Homo sapiens: one gene and its partner. The protein of the gene in region 2 interacts with the protein of the main gene of each other region in a biochemical or structural test. Each region holds a gene or a part of one and is shown on either strand. Other genes may lie near its edges.

Region 1 (3,823 bases), on a different chromosome or scaffold from region 2:
AAGAGATGGGTTAGTGGTGGGAGTAATGGGGGGGGTTCATGAACCAGAATAGCAGTAGAAGAGTCAGAAATTGATTGAAATAGATTTGAGAAAAATGTAGAGGAGGAGGAGTATCCAGCCAAGCTAACCAAGTAAGACAGTGGAGTCACCAACTAAGAGACTACAGTGACAAGCTCAGAAGTGTAGATTGCAGGTGTAGATTAGGAAACTGTTTTTTGGGGATTTAAAAACCACTGGAGTAAATGAGAGTTTGTGAGGACAGTGGGCCAAGATGGAACCCCAGGGAGCAATTTGGTTGGCAAGATGGAAGAGAACATACCTATAAAATGTAGAGATCAGTTAGGTAACTATGGAAGAGGTGGCGACAGTTGTAGGCCATCTAGAGAAGTAGGAATACCAGAATGAATGGCTTCACTGTCAGCACTATATTTTGGGCCTTACCAAGCCGTTCTTCCTGTGCCACCTCTCCCACAAACATGCTAGTTTTGCTTAAGATTTGTCACCTCTGTGTATCCTTTTCCTGCCTCTTAGTCATTTCTTCCTTCTTTGCACACTTGTTTTAGGTTGTCACTTGGTGATGGTGCCACTGTGCTTTTATTTTCCCCCTTTAAGACCATGAGCATCTTACAAGTTAAGCAACATTTTATTCATCTTTAATGTCCCCAGAACCCAAGTATATTATGATGCTTAATAAATGTCTGTTAAATGGCTAGCATGTAACAAATGTCAGGAATGTAGTAGGTGTCAAGTTAGATTGTGAAGTGGATGTGAAGTAGATGCACTTCTGTGCAAAAGCTATCATTCAGAGGCAGAGATCTATGCTTTCAAATCTTGAAATTCATATGGTCTGTGGCTGTGTATTTTATATGTTAGGATATTGCCTACAATTTACATCTTATGTCTTAGAATGCTTGCTGCTTTGAAGAAATTTGAAAAAGATTCTTAAGAAAAATTTAGTCTTTGAGCCCCTAATTTGCGAGCATGATTTTTTTTCTTAAACCACAGCAGTTCAAACATGTGGTTAAGGGGGAGCTCACCAGTGAGCAAGGTGATTATGAGCTGCTCATTTATAAGGTTAAAAGAAATCATTTATAAGGTTAAAAGAGAGGTCTATTCTTTTTTTTAAACAATGTAAATATGAACAGTTGTCTATTTCTGGCACATTCTGTGTTTTAATAGGAAATATTATTAGAAACTGAACACTTAAACTTAGCAGTGCCATTAAGATACTGACATACTGTAAATTAAAATTTTCATGAAATCTCCCCCCACTCCCCGTTTTTTTTTTTTTTTTTAGGAAGTTCAGTACCTGCTTCAAGTAGCAGCACTGTACCTGTCTCTCTGCCTTCTGGAGGCTCTCTAGGATTGGAAAAGTTCAAGAAACCCGAGGGAAGCTGGGACTGTGAATTGTGCCTAGTGCAGAATAAGGCAGACTCTACCAAATGTTTGGCATGTGAAAGTGCAAAGCCAGGCACAAAATCTGGGTTTAAAGGTAAGGCCAAAAAAATAAAAATAAAGGTGATGGTAAAGCGCCTTTTTGTAAGGCCATTTAAAAATGAAGTATTTGAGAACAGCTTCAGTGTTCACTCATTCTCTCTTGAAAATTAATATAAAATGAGATTATCCTGAGATGTTTTAGTTATATCTGTTTCTGAATATTGTAAGGTCATATTAGTTGCTTGTCAACAGTGAGGTATCTTTTCTCCAGGTGGGAAAAAAAATTTCTTGTGTCATTGAGCCTCAGAGAGTTTTTGTTTTTTGTTTTTAACTGCTAGCCCCCTAGGTGAACTGTTCTTTGTTTTTTTGTTTGTTTGTTTTTTTGTTTGTTTGTTTGTTTGTTTTTGAGACAGTTTTGTTCTTTTGCCCAGGCTGGAGTACGGGGGCGCGATCTCTGCTCACTGCAATCTCCGCCTCCCAGGTTCAAGCAATTCCCTGCCTCAGCCTCCCAAGTAGCTGGGATTACAGGTGTGAGCCACCGCGCCCAGATGAACTTACTGACTTTTATTTGACTGGGAATACACCTCTAAATTAAAAGCGATACAGGCTGTGGCTTTGGTTTCCCAAAGTAGGTCCCAGGAAAAGAACTCTTAATATTTTACTATATAAGTACAAAGGAAGACTCCCTCAAAGTAATTAATCCTAAACTAACTGGAGGCCAGATTTTTGTGTTTTTTTTGAGATGGTGTCTTGCTCTGTCGCCCAGGCCGGAGTGCAGTGGCCGATCTCTGCTCACTGCAAGCTCCGCCTCCTGGGTTCATGCCATTCTCCTGCTTCAGCCTCCCGAGTAGCTGGGACTACAGGAACCTGCCACCACGCCTAGCTAATTTTTTGTGTTTTTAGTAGAGACGGGGGTTTCACCATGTTAGCCAGGATGGTCTCAATCTCCTGACTTCGTGATCCACCCGCCTCGGCCTCCCAAAGTGCTGGGATTACAGGCGTGAGCCAACACGCCTGGTCTGGAGGCCAGATTTTTCAAGTCTTCTGTAAAAGAGTAAGCCCGCAAGGAGAAAATGTGTGAGGATTAATGTCTTGAAACAACTCAGACAGATATTTCATCTTCTTACTTATAAGTTGTAGCTAAATAAAGTGTACTCAGTGGACAGAGTGTAGACCCCTAGAACGGTGAGAGGATGGGATGGGGGGTAGATGATGAGAAATTAATTAATGGGCACAATGTACATTATTTGGGTGATGAATATACTAAAAGCCCAAACTTCACTGCCAGGCAACATATCCATGTAACAAAATTGCACTGGTAATCCTTAAATTTATACAAATTAAACAAAAATAATAGCAAGCTTTATCTACTTTGTAATTAGCTTTCAAACTCTTGATTGCAAACCAAAAGTCAGGAATAAACCTTTTATATTGTGAGCCATCACCTGCACAGCGTATATGTCTATATGATTGAAATCTGTTTTGCAAAATAATACTTGCCTCTGGTAGGTGTAAGGTTCCCTGGTATTTTCTGTTTTATTTTATTTTAAAAGAGAAGTGCTGGTTGCAGCCTGCTAAATTAATTGATGATTAATGGTATACAACTAGCAGTTTGAAAAACACTGCATTTAAGTGTTTTAGAAGTTTGTGCTTTCTGGTTCATTTTATCTCTTTCTGTAGCTGTTAATTCATGCTCCCCTTTTTATACTGTTCTCTACCTGTAGTGTGGTAATCACCATACTTTTAAGTATCTTAGTACTTCTTAATGATCCTTGTTTTGAGCCAGTAGGTCAAGTACTTCATTTCTGATTTCCTTAGCTGCAGAAAAGCATTATGAAACCAAGACTTTGATCTTGTCAGTATAATGCTTGCTCTCTTCTCTTTTCTCTTCTCTCCTCTCTCTTCTCTCCTGTCTTCTCTCTTCTCTCCTCTCCCCTCTCCCCTCTCCCCTCCCTTCTCCCCTCCCCTCTCCCCTCTTGTCTCCCCTCCCCTCTCGTCTCCCGTCTCCTCTGCTCTCCTCTGTTTTCTTTTCTTTATTTATTTTGAAGTGGAGTCTCACTGTTGACCGGGCTGGAGTGCTGTGGCGCAATCTTGGCTCACTGCAACTTCTACCTCCCGGGCTCAAGCAATTCTCCTGCCTCAGCCTCTCAAGCAGCTGAGACTACAGGCACAGACCACCATGCCTGGCTGATTTTTTTTGTATTTTTAGTAGAGATGGGGTTTCGCCATGTTGGCCAGGCTGGTCTTGAACTCCTGACCTCGGGTGATCTGCCCGCCTTGGCCTCCCAAAGTGCTGGGATTCCAAGCGTGAGCTACCACGCCCAGTCTGATGTTTAACTTTATAAACATTGCTTCAACTCTGTAATTCTTCTGTTTTTCTGTTGCC
Region 2 (3,600 bases):
AAGTTAGCAGGAAAAGTCAAAAGCAGACACATTTTTCTTACTGCTAACAAGCTCTGCAATCACAGCAGAAGATAATTCTTAAAAGTTTTATTAATTATGTACCACTAAAGAATGTTAAGAATGTTAGGAATAAGATAAAAAGCTTTTTGCAAAATTTGCAAAAGCAGAAACAGGAATAATACCCTAAATGGAATTATCAGCCTATACTAGTGGAAAAATCTCTTCTAGGAAAGGATAAACAGGTTAGTTGTAAAAATTGGCACATATGAAAAACAACAAAAAAATCATTCAAAGGCAGTCTGTATAAAATAAGCCTTGTCACTTTGTTGATGTTGACATTTTGCCTATATAACACAAAGGAACACATATGGTTAGTGTTACTCAGACTTAATTCCTATTACCTTTCTCAAAGATGTCAAGCATCATCCAATCCTTCCCTCTGACCCCATCCCCCAACAGGAGATGGACACCAAAGAGAAACTTAACTGGCATCTAGGCTGTTTCAACCAATCCATCCCACATTTTTATACAAAGGACCAGTCTCTAGCGGACTTAGCTTCATTTTCTCCGGACCCCTTAAATTTTAAAATATGAAAAACGAGGAACTTTCCCCTGTGATTTCATCAGCAAACAGGCCCCATCTCAAAGATGAGCCTCAGTCTGTTTTCTGGGTGCAGATCCCTAGTGATTAGGTCTCTATTCATCCAGGTCAGAAGAAAAAAAAAAAAGAAAGAAAGAAAAAGAAAAAACCCCAAGAGAGGAATAACCGAGCAAAGAGGGAAAAATATCAGTGGAAATGGGTTAAGAGGCAGTCGGGTGCCAGGCCTGGCCATGAGTACAGACCAAGGTAGCTAGGAAAGGGCAGAGCTCTAGGAAATAGGTGGGGAGAGCCACAGGGGCCACGGGATAGGAAGGAGAAGCCGGCCGGGGTCAGACAGGGCGGGCGGCCGGGCCCGGAGCTTCCACATGGCCCCTAGGCCCGACTCCCCCGCCCCCACCCCTGCTGAACACGCAGCGCCGCGCAACCTAACTTCCCTTCCCTCCCTCTTTCTCCCTCCCGCTGCACCGCCGCCCTCAGGCCGCGCAACGATTGGGCGGCAGGCAGCTCGGCGCGCCAAGCCATTGGCCAGTCGCGAGGCCCGGGGCGGGACACACCCACCGGCTTCCCGATGGCGGGGTTAGGTTGGACCGGGTTGGGGGGGGAGGGGGAGGGGGGAGGGGGACGGGATGGGGCGGGGTAGGTTCCCGAGGCCTGGGCCTCCGGGAGGGCGGGAAGGCCCCGCACGCAGGGGATGGGGACGCGGCGGGATGGGCGCGGCGGGGTAGCACGCACCAGGTTCTCCACGGCCGCACGCTCCAGGAACTTCTGCGCCGCTTCCAGCTCCAGCCGATCTAGGGGGAGGAAAGTGGGAGACGGAGCGGGGTCAGAGGGGCCGGGCCTCCCCTCCCCCACCCCAATCACCTCAGCCCTACCCCCGGCTCCTGCGTCCTACCGGGAGACACGGTCTTCTCGAGAATGGTGATCAGCTCCATGGCGGAGGTGGCGGCGGCGGCGACTCCTCCTAAGACGACGGCCCGGCCTTTCGGGCGGCGGCTCGAACTGGGGATGGGGGTTGGGGGTCGGGTGGGAAGGGAGGGTGGGGTGGGGGGCGGGGGTCACCACAAACCCATTCACCGGCTCTGTCTGGGTAGTCGGTCCGGCTCCCCTTCCTCTCCTCTTCCCTTACTTCCTCCCTCCAAATGGGCTGCTGGCGGCGGGGGAGGGACCCTGGGGGCAGCTCAGAGCGCGCTGGTGCTCGGGAGGCGGAGGGAGAAAGAAGGAAGGGAGGCTGTGAGTGAGAGGCGGCGCGCAGGGAGGGAGCGAGGGAGGGAGGAAGGCGGAGGGATATTCGGACCGGACCTCTCCGCGGAGGCGCCGCGCTCCACGACGATTGGCCGTTGTCCTGGCCACGCGGAATCCCTAACTGGCCAGGCGCTCAGCGTCGAAGGGCCGTCTCGCGCCCATTCGCCTGCTGGTTTCAAGGCCCGGGTTGGCTGGGCGGGCAGCGGAATGGAGCGCGCGGATTGGCCGAGGGGAGGGAGATTGGGATGGGGTAGGAGAGAGCCCGCCGTTGATTGGGTGGGCTTGGTAAAGGCCTTGAGCTCAGACCGGCTGAGCGCTGGGAGGAGGGTGGACCGGAGGCACGACTCGGATCCTGCGCGATTGGCTGGGATAGTAGGCGTTGATAGGATAGGGTGCCCGGGAGAACTAAGGAGAGGAGTTCGGGGTCGGGGCGCGGGAAGGCGGGAGGTGCCCGGCAACCCTAGGAGCCCGGCGCGGGGCACGATGGGACGCCCCCGGGAAGAGGCGGAGCTGGGTTCGAGCGCTGGGGCTGCGGTTGGGTAAGCGCCGTCGCTCCGAGGGGCGTGTTGCGCGAGGTTTTCGCGGGCCTGAGCGGGGGAGGGGGGACTGTTGAAGTCCTGCGCCGCGCCCACAGGAAGCTGCTTTAATGGCTAGGTCGGCTTGGTACCCTGCTTTCGGCTGGGAGGGATCCGTAAGGCCATGTGGCTCCACTGCCAATGTGTAGATGTGGAAACTGAAGCCCAGAGAGGGTATGGAACTTGTCCAAGGTCACACAGCTGGTTAATGGCTTGGTAAGGAATGGGTTCAGGAGCCCAGAGAGGGTCTGGAACTTGTCCAAGGTCACACAGCTGGTTAGTGGCTTGATAAGCTCAAGCTCTCCTGACGGCCCTTGTCCCTACAAGCAGCTTCCTCTCCAAGGAGTCCCCTAAGCCTGCTTATATGGGGCTTGAGACCTGTGCTGTGATAAATCTGACTTGCTTAGGGGTGAGCTAAGGGATTCCTCCTCTTAGACCCCCCATCCATAGCTACCAGGTACTTGACAGGATGGAAATGTTTCACCCTCCAAAAGTACCCTGTAAAGGCCCAACCTCGAACCAGAAAGAATGTGTGTACAGGAATAAAGGATTGTGGTTCTTAACCTGTTTCAGTTCTCAACCCCGGAAGAAACTCATGAATGCCTTTTCTTAGCAAAATGCATATAAAGAAAACGTGGGCCGGGCGCTGTGGCTCGCGCCTGTAATCCCAGCACTTTGGGAGGCCGAGGGGGGCGGATGACGAGTCAAGAGATCGAGACCATCCTGGCCAACATGGTGAAACCCCGTCTCTACTAAAATATAAAAAATTAGCCCGGTGTGGTGGCGCGTACCTGAAGTCCAAGCTATTCCTGAGGCTGAGGCAGGAGAATCGCTTGAACCCTGGACGCAGAGGTTGCAGTGAGCCGATATCGCGCCACTGCAGTCCAGCCTGGCGACAGAGCGAGACTCCATCTCAAAGAAAAGAAAAAAAATGTGCATACAGTATGTGGCTCAGGCCTGCAATCCCAGGACTTTGGGAGGATCGCTTGAGCCCAGGGGTTCAAGACTAACCTGGACAACTTAGCGAGATCCTGTCTCTTTTAAAAAAAATGAAGATTTTTAAAATGATAAAGGAAAAGTGTAATAATAGGGCCGGGCGCGGTGGCTCATGCCTGTAATCCCAGCACTTTGGGAGGCCGAGGCGGGCGGATCACTTGAGGTCAGGAGTTCAAGACCAGTCTG

The links. The genes of interacting proteins can lie anywhere in the genome.
Region 1: the proteins of KPNB1 (region 2) and NUP153 form a complex in vitro, tested with the Homo sapiens proteins (4 studies listed by BioGRID and IntAct, with this or other methods).

What each region holds. Positions count from the first base shown.
Region 1 is NC_000006.12:17,630,319-17,634,141, reverse strand, and holds part of NUP153 (nuclear pore complex protein Nup153), read left to right. Parts: intron 1-1,297; coding exon 1,298-1,492; intron 1,493-3,823. UniProt on the Homo sapiens protein: Component of the nuclear pore complex (NPC), a complex required for the trafficking across the nuclear envelope. Functions as a scaffolding element in the nuclear phase of the NPC essential for normal nucleocytoplasmic transport of proteins and mRNAs.
Region 2 is NC_000017.11:47,648,178-47,651,777, reverse strand, and holds the start of KPNB1 (importin subunit beta-1), read right to left. Parts: upstream 1,860-3,600; 5' UTR 1,534-1,859; coding exon 1,494-1,533; intron 1,393-1,493; coding exon 1,334-1,392; intron 714-1,333; exon of another isoform or gene 402-713; intron 1-401.